2 separate regions of the Homo sapiens genome follow, and region 2 is linked to region 1. The links come from fine-mapping of genetic effects on gene expression. A gene starts in region 1. The other region holds a variant in brackets. All regions are shown on one strand. Distances are from middle to middle.

Region 1 (2,500 bases):
TCTGATTTGAAAAGAAATTAAAATATTTTTTGTGGGCCTCTAAAAATATTGTGGACCTTAGGCACTGTGCCTAATGGAAAAGACAGTGACAGGATTGTGCAATATGAATAATGATAAATTTCCCAAACCATCAAGGACTCAAGAATAAGGGTAAACATCTTAAATGGGGTTGGTTTCGAGTACTTATAATAGAAAAATGTTATCCAAACAAGGTCTTAGGGGTAACAGGAGGCGTTTTTAGTGTTCAAAATACGCACATGGATGGAGTTGGCCATTAGGACGCTAATAGCGACCGTATCTAGCTGTGAAATACATATTTTTGTTTTGGGAGTCTACTTTTCAGTAAATGTCCTTTCAGGTGTTTTGTTGCCCATTTAATTACATGATCAACAAGGAAGAGTTATTTTACAAAACAAGCTTCATTTTGCCAATTTATAAATTGCTTTGGAGTTTCATCGAAAGGTCTTTAAAAAACACGTTGGCCTTGGTGCTGGTGCATCACATAAATCACAGATGAAACAAACAAGCCTGTTTCCTACTCAAGGTGTGTCTGTAGAGTCCTGACTGCGTGCCAGGGGCTCTGTCTGGCACATTTCTGAACTTTGCAAAATTAATTGTGCCGAAGAGAACACCATCAAACGCGTCCGGCATACAGCGTAAACATCTTCAGACCGTGATTCTGCGCCATCAAACGCTCTCCAGCTAATTTCATTTGGTGATTACTCTGCTAGAAAACCGAGGCCAAGTGAAACTGCGGAAATGGGAACAATGTACGGAGGAAAAATCTCACCCCATTAAGAGATCCGTTTCTTCTCCGCACAAATAAGCCCACCCCGCCTCCGAGGCAAGACTAGATGGCTCCAGGATACTCTCGGCGCGCCCGCTGGCCATCTCGGGCAGGGGAGCCCCACACCCGGCAGGAGGACCAGGACGCGAGCGGCGGCGCCTCGGCCCTGGGCTGTTTAGGTAATTCGCAAAGTCCCAACAATCATCCCCCTCTCCCAGAAGCTGGTTTTCTTGTGTGCAGTGGTTACAGAGGCGGCGAAAACACGGTTCCCCGCTTTCCTCTCCTCAAGGCACTGTTTGCAGCGGCAGCAGCGGCCGCATTCGGGGAGGCGCGGTCCTCCCCGCAGAGCCGTCGCGCACTCGGCCTTTCTCGAGGATTTGCCTGGGCTCGGCCGCCTCGCTCTCCCCTGCGCTTCCATGACCTTCTGAGAGCGGCCTCACCACCGGAGGCTCGGAGGAAGCACCACCCTCGGCGTCCGGGGCCCGTCGCGCGGCCGCGTTCCTCCGACTCCTTGGAGCACCCGCGCGCGCGGGCGCGCGGCCGGGGATCGGCGGGGGCGCGCGGGTTGGGGCGGGGCCGGGGCCGGGGGCAGGGGCGGGTCAGGGGCGGGGCCGGGCCCGCTGCGCCCCCAGCCGAGCGGCGTGCAGGCGCCGCCCCCGCGCGCCGCAGTCCCGGCTGGAGCGACTCGGCCGTGGCGGTGGCCGTTACCGTTGCCTCTGGGAGGCTCTGGCGGCGGCGGCGGCCCGCGGGGTTCGCGGAGCGCAGCGGGCCGCCCTTCGCCCGTGGCCGCCTCAAGCAGCCTCGCGCCGACACAGGGGAGGCGAGACGGCGGCTGCGGAGGCGGCGGCGCATTGTGCCCGGCCCCCTCCTTGGCGGCTCCTGCCCCCGGGCGGCTGTGGGATCTGGGCAGCCCCGGGGCGGCGGCCGAGGCTACAGAGCCGGCGGCAGGGGATGGCAAGATAGCGGCGCGGGAGCGTACCGTGAGTCCTGGGGGCGGGTGGGCGCGGCGCGGAGCAGGGGAGCCGCGGAGCCCCGAGCGGGGTCCCCAGGGGCGGCCCGGGCGGGGTGGGGCAGCGCTCCCAGCTCTGCGGAGCGTCCTAGGGGAGTGACCCCGGAGAGCGCCGCTCCGGGTCCCGCCGCTCTCCGCGCGCCCTTGGGTCACCCTCGTGTCCTGGGGGACGCGGACTCCAGCGCCCAGAACTTCTGCCCCACGCAGGGCAGTGAGTTCTGAGGCCAGAGGTTACCTGGGGGATGGGAGGGAGCTTGAAATGTTTTTCCTTCGGAGAGGTGACCTGCCAGGTGATTTCGTGCCCCTCTGCTTCAACTCCCCTTTAAACCTGTTCCTCGTCCTTTCTGTATCCGTAGTGCATTTGACTTACCTGTATTTTTATGTGCTAACTTCCGAAGGTGGTGTACTGGTTAAACCCAAAGTTAAAGTGTTGGAGGTCAAAGTTAGGCTTTGTGAAAGATGCCATTTCTGTTATGTTGTGTAAAAGCACAAAGCTGGATTCAGGAGTTCTGAGCGACACAAAACTGCACATCACGTGTTCTGAATTTACATGATTAATCTGAATTAATGTGATTTTTGCCCCCCACCCCCCACATTCCGCTACCAAAAATATATGAGGTCTTTTATTTGCAGTTGGGTATCTTTGTGTTCCTTTTTGAATGTTTAATGCAGTCAAATATTGTTATAACCTGTATTGTTATTGA
Region 2 (2,966 bases), 40 kb before region 1:
CTAATGTGAAGTCCCTCTAGACTAAGCCCATGAAATACTTGCCCCTTCCCTCCCCACCACTGCCACGCTCCGTCTCCAGCTGGTCATCTACCAGCATCCTAGCTGGATTCCCTCTCCGTCACTCCAGCACAGGGGTTCTCAACCTCTGCATTTGGGGCTGGATATTTCTTAGTTGTGCAAGGCTGTCCTGTGCATTGTAGGATACTGAGCAGCATCCCTGGCCTCTGCCTTTGGATGCTAGTAGCACTACCTCACCCAGTTGTGACAACCAAAAATGTCTTCAGACATTGCCAGCATCCCCTAATTGAGGCCCACTACTTTGGTGCTTTAGTCCCTAGTTTGTCTACTCCCACAAGCAATATGTGCAATTACAGTGACTAATTTTTCCTCCCCAGAGAGATGGCACCCCTGGGCTAGAGGGATGCTAGGAAGGAAAAGTCCTTGTCCTTTTGGCATCCTCTCACCCCACGAGCTACTTCTGTGTCTTTTCTTTATGTAACACTGAACTCTCCAGCTCAGGCCTCCAGGTCCTAAGTTCATAATCTCATTACAACTAATCCTGTTTACGGCCATTCTCTTGGCAGAACAATCTTGTCTGGACCAAGGCTCTTTCCTCACCACCCAATGTTCTTGTTGCTCCATTGTTCCTGGGGACTGTGGCCTGGCTGAGTATAAGCTTTCATTGATAGGGTTTATCCTGTTTACAGGGAGTCTGCAGAAGGGCCTCATCAAATACTTCCATCCCTTCCTTCAATAAATGGCTCCCTTTGATCTGTGCAAGGCACAACTTTGTTTATCAGAAGCTGGGCTTCCTCTAGCTGATGATGGGGACATCCTGTCCCAGAAAGGCTCCCCAAAATAACACCTTCTGAATTTCAGAATATTTTCAGGTTCCTCTATTTTGGAAGCATTTTTTTTTTTTCTTGCATGCCATTTCTTATGGCAAGCAAAGAAAGGAGCTGATTTTGCATTTTGAAGCCCAAGGTAACACAAAGTTGAACAGGTCACCGCCAAAAATGAGGAAAGGACAGTGTTGATAATAATATAAACATTTGGAACCAGAACAATATACAAGATTAGGGTTGACCAGGTGTGATCGTTTTTCATATTGTCAATTTAAAACTGGAAGTTATCTAACAAGGTGAAAAAGAGGTCATGGGTGTTAGTCATCTATATGACAGGATGGTAGAAGCTAGCTGAATTATGTGGATGAATGGTAAGGGCGATTTTACACTGTCCGAGCCAGGTAAAGAGCTCTATTTACAGCAATGGTTCTCAAAGTGTGGTCTCTAGTCCAGCAGCATGACCTGGAAATGTTTTAGAAATGTAACTTCTCAAGCCCCATCCCAGATAGTGAATTGGAAACTCTGGAGGTGGGGCCCAGGCACCTGTAAGCTCACAAGCCCTTTAAGTGATGTGATTCTCATGCTTGCTAAAGTTTGAGAACCTCTGATCTGCCCCAATAATC[T/C]TCAAACTTCGGTGTACACAAGAATCACATAAGAAGCTAAAATGCAGATTCCCAGATCCCATACCTAACGATGCAGATTCACTTGGTCTAGAGTGGACCCAGGAAAGTTTGCATTGCTAATAAGCAGCCCAGGGTGATTTGGGTGCAACTGGTCCATGAATCAAGCTTCGAGGAGCATTGGCCTATATATAAAGGAGTGGTACAAATTGTCCATATTGCTCCAGTCTTATTCTAAAGAGGCTCCCTCCGTGGCTAAGAATGAGCCAGTATCACAATTCATCTTCCCTTCCCAGTCATCTCATGAAGCAGGCTGCTAAGATTACCTATTGTGGGCCGGGCGCGGTGGCTCACGCCTGTCATCCCAGCACTTTGGGAGGCCGAGGCAGGTGGATCACGAGGTCAGGAGATCGAGACCATCCTGGCTAACACGGTGAAACCCCGTCTCTACTGAAAAAATGCAAAAAAATTAGCCGGGCGCGGTGGCGGGCGCCTTGTAGTCCCAGCTACTCGGGAGGCTGAGGCAGGAGAATGGCAGGAACCCGGGAGGCGGAGCTTGCAGTGAGCCGAGATCGAGCCGCTGCACTCCAGCTTGGGAGACAGAGCGAGACTCTGTTTCAAAAAAAAAAAAAAAAAAAAAAAGACCTATTGTGGTTTTCAGGATTACTCTAATACTAGAAGGTTAGATTGGCCCCATGGATTCCTTTCACACTGACATCTGAAACACACTGCTGACTCCTAACCTGGGTTGGACTCATGCTGCTGGCCTGGAGGCAAAAGCTTTTTATCCCATTACTAGTTCCTTGAACCACAATCCAAGACACAATTTGGTTTTCCCAAGAGTTTTGTTTTGCACTGCTGATGCATTCCAGTCATTGTTGTGATGCATTTCCTTCTCCTCTTTCCCTCCAGTCCCTGGGCAATGCCACACATGTATATATAGCCTCCTAGTGTGAACTTACTCAAATCCTAACCCTCTCTCCCAGAACGTGTCTCTGCTGCAAGGCACCGGGCCCTTTCGCTCTGCAGAACTGCACTTGCAAGACCATTATCAACTCCTAATCCCAGCTCAGAAAGGGAGCCTCTGCGACTCATTCATCGCCCTCCAGGTACAGCACTGCTGGGGTTTGCTTCCTTCCTTCCTGGCTTTGTGTCCCATGTCCCCTTAGACCTGTCCCCCCTTTAGATTTCTTTTCACTCTGCTTTAATACCAGTTGTGAGGGTCTCTCAGGGCTCTGACCTTACCTCTTTGTCCTACAAAAGTGTATTTCTTGTGTGGTTTCCTGTGACCTGTACTTACCCAGACTTTCTCCAGTCAATCCTTGGCATCCTACAGAGATGGTCTTCCTCAGTCTTCAGTCTCTGTAACGATACCAGCCCTTGTTTAGAGACCCAGAGTAGAAATGGTCACTGTATACAGTTGTACAGTTTCTGCACCGCACAGACACCTGAGGAAGAGAGCAAGTGGTTAGGAAAATCCAGCTTGCACACTGCTCACCAA

Direction of the effects. Positions count from the first base shown, and alleles are read on the strand shown. Sizes are in standard deviations (SD) of each study's normalised expression.
For the expression in tibial artery of the gene that starts at base 1,315 in region 1, C is the high allele of the variant in region 2 and T is the other (small effect, 0.12 SD a copy in GTEx).

The links.
Region 2: its variant is fine-mapped to the expression of LIFR-AS1 in tibial artery (GTEx, PIP 0.93).

Annotation. Positions count from the first base shown.
Region 1 is chr5:38,555,601-38,558,100 of GRCh38, reverse strand. It overlaps LIFR-AS1 (LIFR antisense RNA 1), which reads right to left and starts at 1,315. Exons shown (of 9, transcript NR_103554.1): 1 at 1-1,315. It overlaps LIFR (LIF receptor subunit alpha), which reads left to right and starts at 1,455. Exons shown (of 20, transcript NM_001127671.2): 1 at 1,455-1,767. It overlaps MIR3650 (microRNA 3650), which reads left to right and starts at 540; the gene lies at 540-599. RefSeq lists enhancers at 1,069-1,178, 531-1,314.
Region 2 is chr5:38,594,869-38,597,834 of GRCh38, reverse strand. LIFR-AS1 (LIFR antisense RNA 1) reads right to left here. Exons shown (of 9, transcript NR_103554.1): 2 at 2,766-2,913. It also overlaps a transcript of LIFR not described here. Among named protein-coding and RNA genes, the nearest start is that of MIR3650, 39 kb to the right of the region's middle. The variant T/C (reference allele first, on the strand shown) is at 1,469.